2 separate regions of the Homo sapiens genome follow, and region 1 is reported to be linked to region 2. The links are microRNA targets in miRTarBase. Many come from high-throughput screens and were not tested one by one. Region 2 holds a microRNA gene; the other region holds the end of a gene's coding sequence.

Region 1 (7,117 bases), not on the chromosome of region 2:
GGCCTTATTCATCTGGTTCACTCCTGCACCTGGAGATGTCACTGGGGGAAGCTGGAGAACAGTAAAGATGGGTGCCTGCTCCTTCCATTGGTATCGCTGACCTTGAGGGGCACCGACCTAATGCCAGCAGGAATGCTTCTGTATAAAATGTCTGACAACCCCTGTTGCAGGGTCTCACCCAGTTGGTGGCACTGGGAGCAGGACCCATTTAATGAAGCACTTTGGCTGTCCCTTGGTGGAGGGGGTATGCTGTGCTGGAGGGAAACTTACTCATCTGGGCTGCCCAGATTCCTCAGAACTAGCAGTAGGAAAAACTAAGTCTGCTGGTCCGTGGAGACTATGGCCACCCCTTCTACTAGGGGCTCAGGCCCAGGGAGATGAGAGTTCTGTCCTTGAGCCCCTGGCGGGAGTTGTTGGAGTTCCTGCAGGGAGGCCCTCCCAGTGAGGAGGGATGGGTCAGGGTCTTGCCTGAAGAGGCACTCTGGCTGCAGTCTGCCACAGCCGGTGTGTTTGGCTGTGGGGAATATTTCTTGCCACCAAGTCTCCCTGGCTCGGCAGGGGAAAATAGTGACCTGGAGCTATAGAGATGGCTGCCGCCCTTCCCCCGCCATGGGAGCTTAGTGTGTTAGGCAGCTAGCAGTCCCAGTGTTGGCTGCTGCCCCTCCCGCAGGGAGCTTAGACAGCTTAGGCAGCAGGCAGTTGCAGCTGTGGTGATGGCTGCAACTCCTCCCAGGAAGTCAGCAGGCTTAAGCAGATTCTAGCTGAGTGGCTATTGAGAATCTGCGTAGCTCTGTTGTTGGGACCCTAGGCCCTGGTGGCAGGGGCTCTCAAGTGGGATCTTCTGATCTGTGGGTTGCACAGTTCTGTGGAAAAAGCATGGTTTCCCAGGCTGGGTAGCACGCTCACTCACCACCTCCCTTGGCTGGTGGGTGGGGACTCCCCTGCCCTGTGTGGCTCTCAGGTGGGCTGCCACACCACACTGCACTTCCTTCCTCTCCGTGTGTCATACCAACTGCCTAGTCAGTCCTGGTGACAGCACCTGGATACCTTGGTTGCCGTTGCAGGGTTCGCATGCTGTTTTGGTTGTTTTCTGAATTCAACTTTTTAAAAATCCCACAAATAAGTGAGAATATGGGTATTGGTCCTTCTGTGCCTAGCTTATTTTATTTAACATAATGTCGACTAGGTTCATCCATGCTGCCACAAAAGAATAAAAATGATTTTATTCGTTTTATGGCTGCATGGTGTTCCATTGTGCACATATAGCACTTAAAAAAATCCGTGTATCCACTGATGGACATTTTGGTTGATTCCATATCTTGGCTGTTGTAAATAGTGCTGTAATAAACTTGAGGGTGCAGATGACTCTTTGACGTACTTATTTCTTTTCCTTTGGATATATAACCAGTAGTGGGACTACTGGATCATATGGTAGATATATTTTAATTTTTTGAGGAATCTTGACACTGTTGACCATAATGGATGTACTAATTTATATTCTCACCAACAGTGTATAAGTGCTCCCCTTTCTCCACATCCTCACTAGCATTTGTTATTTTTTTTTTTGTCTCTTTGATAATAGCCATTCTAACTGGGATGAGGTGATATCTCATTGTGTTTTTAAAAAGTTTGTTTTTATTTTTAAATTTTATGGATACATCATAGTATAGTTAACAATAATTTATTGTATATTTCATTGTGATTTTGATTTGCATTTCCCTAATGATTAGTGATACTGAGCATTTTTCCATAAGCTTGTTGACCATATAGATGTCTTCTTTTAAGAAATATCTATTTAGGTCTTTTCTCCATTTTTAAAATCATTTATTTGTTTTTTTGTTGTTATCGAGACATTTGAGTTTCTTATATATTCCACATATTAACCTCTTGACAGATGCATAGTTTGCAAATATTTTCTCCCATCCTGTAGGTTGTCTCTTTGCTCTGTTGATTGTTTCCTCTGCTGCGCAGATGCAATTTAGTTTTATGTAAATCCATTTGTCTATTTTTGCTTTTGTTGTCTATGCTTTTAAGGTCTTATCCAATTAATCTTTAGCCAGATCAATGTCATAAAGCATTTCCCCTATGGCTTTGTCTAGTATTTTCATAGTTTCAGGTCTTACAGTCAAGTTGTTAATTTCTTTTGAGCAGAGTTTTGTATGTGGTAAGAGATAGAGATCTAGTTATTCTTTTGCATACACATATTCAGTTTTTATAACATCATATATTGAAGAAACTGTGCTTTTCCCAATGTGTATTCTTCACACCTTTGTCAAAAATCAGTTGGCTATAGATACATGATTTATTTTTGGGTTGTCTATTCTGTTTCATTATCCATATGTCTGTATTTATGACCATGCTGTTTCAGTTACTATAGCTTTATAGTATGTTTTGAAGTCAGGTAGTGTGATGCCTCCTGTCATTTCCCAAGGTAACTGTGCATTGGGAAAAGGGAAATGATCTGATCTTTTGGGGACTACTGGACACTGGCTCTCAACTGATGTTGATTCCAGGAGACACGAAACATCACTGTTGCCCTCTAGTTAGAGTAGGCAATTATGGGGGTCATGTGATTAATGAAATTTTAGCTCAGATCCAACTTACGGTGTGTCCACTCGATCCCAAAACCCATCTTGTGGTTATTTCCTCAATTCTAACTGTGGTTATGTCCCCAGTGCAACTGTGGTTATTTCTCCAATTCTAATATGCATAATTAGAATAGGCATACTTAGCACCTGGTAGAATCCCCACATTTGTTTCCTGACTTGTGGAGTGGGGGGGTATTATGATGGGAAAGGCCAAATGGAAGCCATTAGAGCTGCCTCTACCTAGGGAAATAGTAAATGAAAAGTAGTGTTGTATCATTGGAGAAATTGCAGAGATTCGTGCCACCATCAAGGACTTAAAAGATGCAGGGGTGGTGATCCCCACCACATCCCTGCTTAACTTTCCTATTTGGCCTGTGCAGAAGATAGATGGATCCTGGAGAATGACAGTGGATTATCATAAGCTTCACCAAGCAGTGACTCCAATTGCAGCTGCTGTACCAGATGTGGTTTCACTGCTTGAGCAAATTAACATTTCCTGGTACCTGGTGTGTAGCTATTGATCTGGCAAATGACTTTTTCTCCATCCCTGTCTGTAATGCCCACCAGAAGCAGCTTGCTTTCAGCTGGCAGGGCCAGCAGTACACCTTAACTGTCATACCTCAGGAGTATATCAATTCTGCAGCCCCATGTCATAATCAAGTTCACAGAATTCTCGACCACTTGTCCTTCCACAAGATGCCACACTGGTCCATTATATTGATAACATTGTGCCAATTAGACCTAGTGAGTCTGAACTCATTGGTAGGACATTTGTGTGTCAAAAAGTACAAATAAATCTGGCTAAAATTCAAGGGACTTATACTTCCTCGTGAAATTTATAGGGTCCAGTGGTGTGAGACCTGTCCAGATAGCCCTTTTAAGGTGAAGGATAGGTGTCTGGCCCCTCTTACACCCAAGAGAGAGGCACTATGCCTGGTGCATCTATTTGGATTTTAGAGGAAACACATTCTGGGTGATCAGGGATTTGGAAGCAACATGATTGGAAAATTGATGACAAAGATACCTGGGGAAGAGCAATGTGAATAGACCTCTATGAATGGGCAAAGATATGAAGATATCTGTGTCCCATGTAAATACTCACCAAAGCATGACCTCAGAAGGGGAGGTTTTAATAAGTGGATAGGATGACCCGTTTTGTGGATACCAGTGAGTCTCTTTCCCCAGCCACCACTGTCATCGCCCAATGGGCTCATGAACAAAATGGCCATGGCGGCAGGGATGGAGGTTATGTATGGGTTCAGCAGCATGTACTCCCACTAACCAGGGCTGACCTGGCCACTGCCACCTTTGAGTGCCCAGTCTGCCAGCAGCAGAGACCAACGCTGAGCCCCCCAATGGCACCATTCCCAAGGGTGATTAGCCAATTACTTGGTGGTATGTTGATTACATTAGTCTGCTTCTGTCATAGAAGAAGTATGGATCCCGTCACCCAGGTAGTGAGCATAATACCTGACAGGTAGTTTTTAACTTACCTTCTCCCCACCTTCACCTTCTAGTAGTTTAATTTTTATGAAGTTCAACTTTAAAATTTTTCCTTTTATGGATCATGCTCTTTGCTTTTGATTTCAACTCTAAGAACTGTTTGCCTAGTATTTTATTTTTTACCTTTTTGTTACATGTTGACACCCATGAGAATACACACAGTCAAGAACAATGACTGGACTCCTAAACTCAGGCTTGGAGTAAAGTAGGTGGAATCAGGGTCTGCTCTTCCAAGGCCTAAGCAGTGGCAGCATAGCCATGTTTGGTGTTAGGGATCTATGGAGTATGATCCAATGAGAAGGAAATCATTACAAAGGAACACAAATTAGGGTGACCTCTTATTTATCACTGAAAACACCCGAGGCATTGGAATAATATAGATGTATCTTTAAAAGATCTGAAAGAAAAGCTTTGGACCTAGAATGCTGCATCCTATCAAATTATCAAATTGTCTACTAAAGTAAACGTGCCAAAATCGTGTTTTTAGATATGCATGCACTCAGAAAGTTTTTCTTCAACTGGTAATTTATGAAGTCTTTCACCATTGCATAGGTCATCTTGTTTATTAATAGTTTTCTATTCCATTGGCAATAAATGTTTATTTGAAGAAATTCAGACATTACAACTGTGTATAAAGATGAGGAAATATTCTCCCTCCATGTTTCCCCCTGCCCTTCCATTCTTACCCCAGTGGCTACACACATATGTACATTCATATTTATATAATGTTTTAATGTAATGGATTCATACTTTTACATTTGTTCCATATCTTAATTTTCTTACTTAATGGCTTTTCAAGGAAGCAGTAAAGATATATTTGATTCTTTGAACATGCTGCATATAGTTACACTTTATGGAATTAGTCATAGCATCTTTCTCCATTTCCCTATTGAAAAGGTTTTAGGTTGTTGCCATTTTTACCTATTATAAACTGGGATTTCCCTGAACATCTTTGGAGATTATATATACATATATCTCACAATATTCAATACACATTTACAATAATATTACTCAATACAAATTTATAATAATATTTCTATAGGCTAGAGTCCTAGAAATGACAGTTTCTAGACGAAGTATTAAATCACACATTTTAAACACATAGTTTATGGGAAGGTGAACCAGAAGAAATGTTTCAACCTCCCCTGTGTGAAATGGATAATTTCCATGTTATCCCTTGTGGTTTTTGTTCTTTCTGACCATTAGCATTTTTAAATTGTATGATAAAATATAAGAGGAAATTAAAAGTAAATAAAACTACAGCAGTATAATAAAGGAAGGATAGAAAGATAAAAAAGTAAAAGCTTAAGATTTAAGCAATAAAACATTTTTAGAAGGAGAAAAATAAAAAATTATAAAAATTCTCAAGAAGAGAAAATTAGCTAAAATATATATCCTCCTCTTCCTTCATTCTTTCTCTTTTCAATTTTTTTGCAAAAACATTCAATGGCTACAAATTACACATTTTTCAGCAATATATTGAAATGTGAAGAATTTTGGAGGATCTGCCTTAATAAAAGGAGAGAAATTTGTTTAGGAAATATTCATGGGGAAAGGATTAGATTAAAGCAGTTTTTGGAAAATGAGAAAGTGGAAAAAATAAATCTTTCCAAGAAAGAGGAGACACAGACAGGAAACGATTGTGATTTAAGAGATACAGGCCGAATTGTTGGGTCATCATCAATGGATGTAAGTGCCCACAATAGCCTTGTCTCACATGGGTCAGAAGTGCTAGCTTCCAACAGCTTTGACTGTTCACCAGAAACCAGTAGAAAACACGTCCAAGTTGAGCAGATTCCACTTACGAGTTTTTCAAGAGGGTGCTTCCTAGGATCTCTTGCTCATAAGCTTCCTCAGGCCCTGTTTCAGGTCTTTGTTTCTCAGGCTGTAGATAAAAGGATTGAGCATGGATGACAAAACTGTGTAAACAATTGTTGCCACGTGGTCCTTGACAGCGTAGGTGGATGGGGGCTGTAAATAGACACAGAAGATGCTTCCATAAAAGAGCGTCACCACGGTGAGGTAAAAACCACAGGTGGAGAAGGCTTTGCGTTTCCCAGAAGTAGAGGGAATCTTGAGAACTGTAGTGAGGATTCGTATATAAGAGAAAGCAATGCAGAGAAAACGAGTCACCAAAACAATAGGTGCTTCTGTCATCTGCACAATTTCATTGACAAATATGGAAGAGCAGGACAATTTCAGCACAGGGCTGAGGTCACAGAGAAAGTGGTGGATAACATTGGAGTCACAGAAGGTGAGACGATTCAGCAGAAGTGTGTGCAGGAGTGAGTGGAGGTGAGGAAATGAGCAGGAGAAGGCCACCAGCAGGACACAGTGGTGGTGGCTCATGGTGGTGACATAGTGGAAAGGGTCACAGACGGCCACATAGCGGTCAAAGGCCATGACTGCCAGAAGGCAGCTGTCACTGTTGCCCAAGGCATAGAGAAAATACATCTGTGTCAGACACCCAGCATAGGAGATGGTCTTCTTTTCTGACAGGAAGTTCATCAGCATCTTGGGGACAACGCTTGTTGTAAAGCAAATATCAGTGAGAGACAGAAAACTCAAGAAGAAATACATAGGGGTCTGAAGATGGGGGTTGAAGCGAATGGCCAGGATGATGAGCAGGTTCCCTGTTATGGTGACCAGGTACACGATGAGGAAGAGAACAAAGAGTGTCTTTTGGTCCTCAGGCCGGGAGGAGAGTCCCAGGAGGATAAACTCGGAGACACTGCTGGTGTGGTTGATTCTTTCCATTGACTTGGGCTCAGTTATAAACAAGAAGTTTTGTCATTTAACATGCTCTGATTTCATAACACCAATCATGAGAACCTAGCAAGTCTTTGTTTCTTCTGTTTGGTCACAATTAGCTACTGTGCTAATTGTGGGATGGCTTGTTCACCTCATGGTCCTTGATGGGGTCCTCCCTTCCCAAATCTATGGGCTCCATAAGGGCATTATATTGAAATCTGGAGGGACAGAGGGAGAGTTTTCCTTTAGAAACTTTCAGAAGTGGACTCCTCTAA
Region 2 (7,115 bases):
CAAGCTGCCTGTGTGGGAGACCATCGTGTGCACCATGCGAGAAGGGGAGATTGCCCAGTTCCTCTGTGACATCAAGGTGTCTGTCCTGTACCTGTCTGCGGTGGCTGTCCAGCCAAGCCCTATTCCTATTCCCTATCCCCAGGGCTCCTCCTCCCTCCACCCTCTGCTAGACTGCCACCCGCTTTCTTTTTTTTTTTGAGATGGAGTCTTGCTCTGTCGCCCAGGCTGGAGTGCAGTGGTACGATCTCAGCTCACTGCACCCTCCACCTCCTGGGTTCAAGCGATTCTTCTGCCTCAGCCTCCCGAGTAGCTGGGATTACAAACACCCGCCATGATGCCTGGCTAATTTTTGTATTTTTAGTAGAGACAGGGTTTCACCATGTTGGCCAGGCTGGTCTTGAACACCTGACCTCAGGTGATCCACCCGCCTTGGCCTCCCAAAGTGCTGGGATTATAGGCGTGTGCCACCGCGCCCGGCCCACCCACTCTTTCCAGACCACCACACCAGCCTGCTGATGGCGTCCTGGCCTCCATTCCGCCTTCCCCTATTAGCCAGACTGAGGCCAGGGGACTCGTTCTCAAATGCAAATGACCTGTACATCCCTTTGTTTCAAACCTCTATGACTCCTGGTCACTGTAAGGATAGAGCACAGGGGGTCCTCACTTCATGTTGCTGATACATTCTTGGAAACTGTGACTAAGAGAAAAAACATACATCAGGTTTTTTCTCAGCCACCGTCATTTCTCTCAGCAAAATTTTGTTAGAACATTGATGAGAAGAAAAATTGGTTTCGTTATGTATTGTTTCGCCTACAGTCACAGTTTCCAAGAACCTACTTAGGACGTTAAGTGAGGACTTAAACCGTATAAGCTATAGCTGCTCACATAGCTTTTTGGGGGCTGGCCCCTGCCGTCTCACCCTCTTACTCAACCTCCCTGCTTTTCCTTTCCATTCCCCTTCTTAGCCAAGATCTTCCCTCTTCCTTCAAAGCTTATTCCTGGGTCACCACCTCTAGGAAGCCCTCCCTGACTGCTAGTGGTTGGCTCAACTCCCATGTTTGGGTCCTCCAACCCTCATGCCCTGCATGGCCAGGATCTGCTCTTCTGCCTTGTCCTAGGCTATTGCAGAGCAGGGATCTGGCCTGTTTACTTCTAGCTTTGGGATGCCCAGCGCGAGCCAGTCCAGAGCCAAGACTCAGGAAATGCCCGCTGATGGCAGCCCGGCAGTCAGCCCCTGTCCAGACAACAGGGCAGTGGGAGGAGTGGGGAGGACCCGGGTAGGAGGAATCTGGTTATCTGGTTCCCACCAGCCTAGCAGCTTTGCCAAGCAAGAGATTAGAGGCTAGGTCCCCTATGCCTGTCTCCCTGTGGGGTTTTTTTTTTTTTGACTAAGTCTCACTCTGTTGCCCAGGCTGGAGTGCAGTGGCGTGATCTTGGCTCACTGCAACCACCATCTCCTGGGTTCAGCTGATTCTCTGCCTTAGCTGCCTGAGTAGCTGGGATTACAGGCACCTGCCATCGTGCCCGGCTCATTTTTGTATTTTAGCAGAGACGCGGTTTCACCATGTTGGTCAGGCTGGTCTTGAACTCCTGACCTCAGGTGATCCGCCCGCCTTGGCCTCCCGAAGTGCTAGGATTACAGGCGTGAGCCACCACATCCGGCCTCCCTGAGGGTTTTGAAGTGGCTGGCCTGGGCCCAGCTCTGAGGTAGGCCCTCAGTGGGGTGTGGGTGGGGCAGAAGGAGGAGCTGCTGGGAACAGAATGTGGGGGGCCCCAGTTCTTTGCATAGTCCAGCAAAGGGCCTTATCCTCTGGAGGGAGAGGAGGTAAGAATTCTACTGGGCCTGTAAGGACCAGGGAGACAGGGGTTGATGGTAGGCATGTGTCTGTGGTGGGGGTGAGGAGGGGGTTAGGTGCTCTGTTTGGTGGCCAGAGAATGTGGCAGAAGCTGGGGCTTCACCAGGAGAGAGGGCTGAGCGACTGGAGGAGTCCTGAATTAAAAGCCTCCTGTGCTTAAACGGAGTAGGGTCCCAGTTGTCACTCTCTGGGCCTTGGTGTTTGTTCTCAGATGGTGGTGGGGAAGGGGGCTGGGCCTTGTGGACCCGGTGACCAGCCAGCCCACGGTGACAGAGCCCCCGGCGCCCTTGCCTTCCCGCAGCATGTGGTCCTGTACCCGCTGGTGGCCAAGAGTCTCCGCAACATCGCGGTGGGCAAGGACCCCCTGGAGGGCCAGCGGCACTGCTGCGGTGTTGCACAGATGCGTGAACACAGCTCCCTGGGCCATGCTGACCTGGACGCCCTGCAGCAGAACCCCCAGCCCCTCATCTTCCACATGGAGATGCTGAAGGTGAGGGGCCACCGCGCCTGGTCTCACCAGGCCCCCACTGCCCAGCCTCAGGGCGGCGCTGGCCTGTCCACCCAGGGGTGGTGGGATCCGCAGGTGGACTGCTGGGGGAGCGGACAGAGACAAGAAAACCTGTGCAGGACCCTTGGCAGTACCCTGGGTCTCCTTTCCTCCTCCTTCACATCTCAAATGTCACCTCCTCCAGGAAACCGGCCCTGCCCACCCGGTCTCCTCATTCTCTGTCTCGCAGCAGCTCATTTCCTTTATAGCCTCTGCCGCACCTTGAAGTCCCTTGGAATTCATGGATTTCCTTGTCCATTTAGGGAACCTGCCATGCAGCATGATCTCTGCGAGGGCAGGGCTTTTCACCGTCTTGTTCACTGTTCTATTCTTAGCACTTGGCACAGTGCTGGGCACACAGGAGATGTGACATCGATGTTTGATGCTTTTTGAGTGACAAGTAGCTCTGCTGCTGGTGTGTGATGTCTGGGGGCCCAGCCAGCCCAGATGTGGGTCAGGTCTGCTGCTGACGGACGCAGCTGTGGTGTCCCCGAGCCCCGCTGTGATATGCCCCATGCCCTGCAGGTGGAGAGCCCTGGCACGTACCAGCAGGACCCATGGGCCATGACAGACGAAGAGAAGGCAAAGGCAGTGCCACTTATCCACCAGGAGGGCAACCGGTTGTACCGCGAGGGGCATGTGAAGGAGGCTGCTGCCAAGTACTACGATGCCATTGCCTGCCTCAAGAACCTGCAGATGAAGGTACTGCCTGGAGGCTGAGGGGGAGGATGGATGGAGGGGGGTGTGGAGCCAGGGGGCCCAGGTCTACAGCTTCTCCCCGCTCCCTGCCCCCATACTCCCAGGAACAGCCTGGGTCCCCTGAATGGATCCAGCTGGACCAGCAGATCACGCCGCTGCTGCTCAACTACTGCCAGTGCAAGCTGGTGGTCGAGGAGTACTACGAGGTGCTGGACCACTGCTCTTCCATCCTCAACAAGTACGACGGTGAGCACCGGGCCCTGGGCTGCCGGGGGCTGCGAGTGGTCAGAGAGTGGCCTTTCTCCTGTCACTGCTGGGGTCAAGACCTAGCCTTTCACAACCCCCATTCTGAGCTCCCACGGGGGCCTGACTAAATGCCTCTACTCGGCAGGGCTGTGGGCCCCATTGTGCCAATGAAGCATGAATGGTGTATTGGGGGTGGGGTGGCATCCTCAGGTCAGGGAGGGCTCTCTCTCCCCTGTGGGCCCATGGTGCCAGGAGACATGAGGGCAGGCAGCTGGCCAGGATCCCCCCTCATGCCCTTGCATGCCCACTGCCCACTGGCCTCCCCTGCAGACAACGTCAAGGCCTACTTCAAGCGGGGCAAGGCCCACGCGGCCGTGTGGAATGCCCAGGAGGCCCAGGCTGACTTTGCCAAAGTGCTGGAGCTGGACCCAGCCCTGGCGCCTGTGGTGAGCCGAGAGCTGCGGGCCCTGGAGGCACGGATCCGGCAGAAGGACGAAGAGGACAAAGCCCGGTTCCGGGGGATCTTCTCCCATTGACAGGAGCACTTGGCCCTGCCTTACCTGCCAAGCCCACTGCTGCAGCTGCCAGCCCCCCTGCCCGTGCTGCGTCATGCTTCTGTGTATATAAAGGCCTTTATTTATCTCTCTCTGAGTCTGCTGAGCTGCTCCACTGGGAGAGCCGGGTCATCACCTGGCATTCCTGGTACTTGGGTGGCTGTTGGGAGGCAAAGAATCAGGGTTCAAATCCTAGCCCCTCCACCCACCAGCTCTGAGGCTCTGGTGTCCCTGTTAGAGAAATTACGATGAGCTCTTTCACCAAGGAAGTGTCTCTCGCTGGCCAGGGCTGGGGCGCCCCAGGAGCCCACAGTCTTAAGGGGGAGATGAAGTGGGTACAAGCTAGGTAGCTGGGCACCTGAGGGAGGTAGTCTCCTGGTGCTGCCCTCCCACTCCAGCCTCGGATCCCATGGTCTCCTGGCCTCGGTGTCTGGGGGCAGGGTTTCCATGAGAAGCTACGCTGGGGCTGAGGTGAGCCGGGTTGGGCTGGGGTGGGCTGACTGTCCAGAAAGAGGAGAGGGCCGAGCGCTTCGTGAGACCTTTTGAGGCCCAGGCCCCCATCCTGACCTGCCTGTGACATGGATGGCCCTGGGCGTGGGTTTCGTGCGACCTTTTGAGGCCCAGGCCCCCATCCTGACCCTGCCTGTGAGCTGGATGGCCCTGGGTGTGTGTTGGCCTCTCTGTGCACATCAGTGTCCCCTGTTGAACTGGAAACTGGGCTGGCTGCCCTGTGATGCCAGGCATGGGGTGAGTGGGTGGGGTGCAGGTGGCGTTTATTTTCATGGATTTATACACACTGGAAAAGCCTCTGCGCCCATGCCCACGCCCTCCTCCCTCCCCCCGGCGCTGGGTCCCCTCATATGAAAGGGAAGTAACACCGAGGAGCACACGGAGATATAGGGTGTGGGGCTGGGGGGGCCAGCGCTGGGGCCAAAAGTCTGGGTCCCCAGCCTCCCACACGCAGCCCCTCGGGCCCCTTGGGTGTGTCAATAAATAACCCAGGTCCAGGCTGGTGTGGGCCTCACTCCTCGCTGTCCAGCTTCAGGCTGATGCTCCGTGCTTTGCCCCGTGCCAGGGTGGTGGGTGGTGTTCCCGGGCCCTCACGCTCCGCCTGGCTGGGGCCCCTCGAGCGAAGCAGCTGGCTCTGTTTGCGCAGGAAGTCCACGGGGGCAGCCACACCATAGCTGCTCTTGCCCAAGGCAGCTCTCGGGGGTCCCGAGGAGGCATGCGAGTGCGAGCCCGCTTCCAGCTGGCCCAGGTGGGCCACATAGCCGTCTGACAGGAACTGTGGGCAGAGGTAGGCAGCGATGAGGGGGTGCTGGCCAAGGGCCCACACGCTGCCCTCCACGGTCCTCCAGAGGCACCTGAGGCAGGCTGGGGGACTGGTGGCAGGCTTGGCACAGCCTGAGCTGAAGCCTTCTCAATAGATAGGACCCCAGGCTGGGAGCCAGGGCACCTTGGCTGTGCTCCTAGCTCTGCCCTTCTCTGGGCCTCAGTCTCCTCATCTGGAAAATGGGGTCTTAGAGGAAAAATAACAGCAGCCAATGTTTAGCCAGCACTTGCTTTGTGCCCAGCCCTGTGCCTGTTGATGTGATCTTCATAAGCTGACATGGGCAGTGCCATGATCATTTCCATTTACAGATGGGAAGCTGAGGCTCAGAAAGGTCACAGTGGAAAGCCATGGCCGAGTGGAACCAGCGCCTAGGGTCTTGAGCACTTTCCAGTGTGGGCTGTCCCCTCTGGCTTGCCTGGCAGCTGGCAGCTCAAGCTGCTCATGGCCCTTGTCCTCGGAGGATCCCAGGTTCCCTGGAGGCCGGTTAGGCCTTCTCACATCTTCCCCAGAGTCCGTGGTTCCCAAGGCCTGGGACTGAGGGCCCTGCCCCCTGGTGGGGTCCTGTTCCTGGCCTTCACTTGGGCCTCACCTGGCACTGCGCCTGTAGCTTCCGCACGGCACGGCCCACGATGTAGGTCTGGCTCGGGGACAGCCCCAGCGCCGCGTATACAGCCACATCTTTGGGAGACCCATAACCGGCCACGATGTTCAGTTCTACCTGTGGCGGGAGATGCCAATCAGCCGCCCCAGGGGTGGAGCCGTGCAGCTGGGGGCGGGGCCTGTTGGGCTTCCCCAGATTGTTCTGGGGGTGGGTCCAGGCAGACGGAGGCGAAGACAGGTCCCAGTCCCACGGGGACAGGGGCGGGACCAGCTGCATCTCCCTAGTTGCCCCTAAGTACACGGGGCCCCTCAAACTAGGGGAGCAGGACCGTAGCGGGCCGCTGCAGTCAGGCAGGGCCCGGGCCGATCCAGTTGGGAACAGATGGGCCTCCGCCGATCCGGGGGTGGAGGGTAAGGGGGAGCGGGGGCGGGGTCAGGACCCGGAGCCTCCCCCAGCCGCCGCACCTCCTGCACCAGGCTCTGCAGAAACATTGCCTTCTGGCGTAGTGGGTCGTGGGTGAGGCCGTCGCAGAAGGAGACGACGCCGTGGGGGAAGTTGTGCTGCGACAGCCATGCCACCACGCGGTGCTTCTGCATATCCGGCCGGCCTGTGACATACACGATCAGGTAGCCGGAGTCCTGCCAGTGCCTGTGGGGCGGGGGCAGCGGTCAGCTCCGCTGGCCAGGGGTGAGGGGCCGGTCACCCCGGTGAAATGGGTGGTGGTGGCAGTGGCAACTCCTACCTGACCACGTCCACGGCGCCAGCTCGCACCTTGGGGTCGCTGCCCATGATGGAGACGCTGGCGGTGAAGGAGCCGTCGATGCTGAAGACCACAGCCTCCGTGCCGCGGGCCACCACAGTCAGGCAGCATTCGGCATAGGTGTGGTCGCCCCTGCGGCCCACGGGGCGGGGCGTGAGTGGCGCGGGGCGAGGCCTGGCGGAGCCCTCCCGCAGAGGCCCGGCCAGCCGCGCTCACCTGACCACCATGCGCACGGGGTAGACACCAATGCCCAGCGCGCGTTCTGGGGGAACTGGGAAGGTGAGGCGGCCCGAGCTATTGGTGACTTCGGTGCCAAAGTGGATCCACTTGCCCGACAGCGGCTGCGTCATGATGTAGACATCCACCTGGAGGGGAGAAGGGGCGGGAGGTAAATGGGGGCCCTGCGTGGAGGTGGGCAGAGGCGGGGCTGTCGTCGGGGATGGGTGGGTCTAGGGGCACAACCACCAGGGACCAGGAGCTGTTCCGAGGACAGGAGATGGGGCCATGGGACCAGGCGAC

The links. The annotated mature microRNA hsa-miR-6752-3p reads UCCCUGCCCCCAUACUCCCAG and lies in region 2 at 3,186-3,206, shown strand. An mRNA with a match to its seed (bases 2 to 7 or 8) in the 3' UTR can be bound and repressed. Matches are read on the target gene's strand: a 7mer-m8 pairs with bases 2 to 8, a 7mer-A1 pairs with bases 2 to 7 and ends in A, and an 8mer does both.
Region 1: the mRNA of OR1L8 is a reported target of hsa-miR-6752-3p. The part of its 3' UTR that is shown has no 7-base or 8-base seed match.

What each region holds. Positions count from the first base shown.
Region 1 is chr9:122,561,630-122,568,746 of GRCh38, forward strand. OR1L8 (olfactory receptor family 1 subfamily L member 8) reads right to left here. Exons shown (of 5, transcript NM_001004454.2): 5 at 5,488-7,060. The coding sequence starts at 6,848. The coding sequence ends at 5,919. It also overlaps a transcript of OR1J2 not described here. Among named protein-coding and RNA genes, the nearest start is that of OR1N2, 12 kb to the left of the region's middle.
Region 2 is chr11:67,487,110-67,494,224 of GRCh38, forward strand. MIR6752 (microRNA 6752) reads left to right here and starts at 3,136; the gene lies at 3,136-3,206. It overlaps AIP (AHR interacting HSP90 co-chaperone), which reads left to right. Exons shown (of 6, transcript NM_003977.4): 2 at 1-76; 3 at 2,158-2,346; 4 at 2,929-3,105; 5 at 3,207-3,348; 6 at 3,679-3,994. The coding sequence ends at 3,884. It overlaps PITPNM1 (phosphatidylinositol transfer protein membrane associated 1), which reads right to left. Exons shown (of 24, transcript NM_004910.3): 20 at 6,813-6,961; 21 at 6,579-6,728; 22 at 6,301-6,484; 23 at 5,825-5,953; 24 at 4,659-5,187. The coding sequence ends at 4,924. RefSeq lists enhancers at 1-65, 236-315.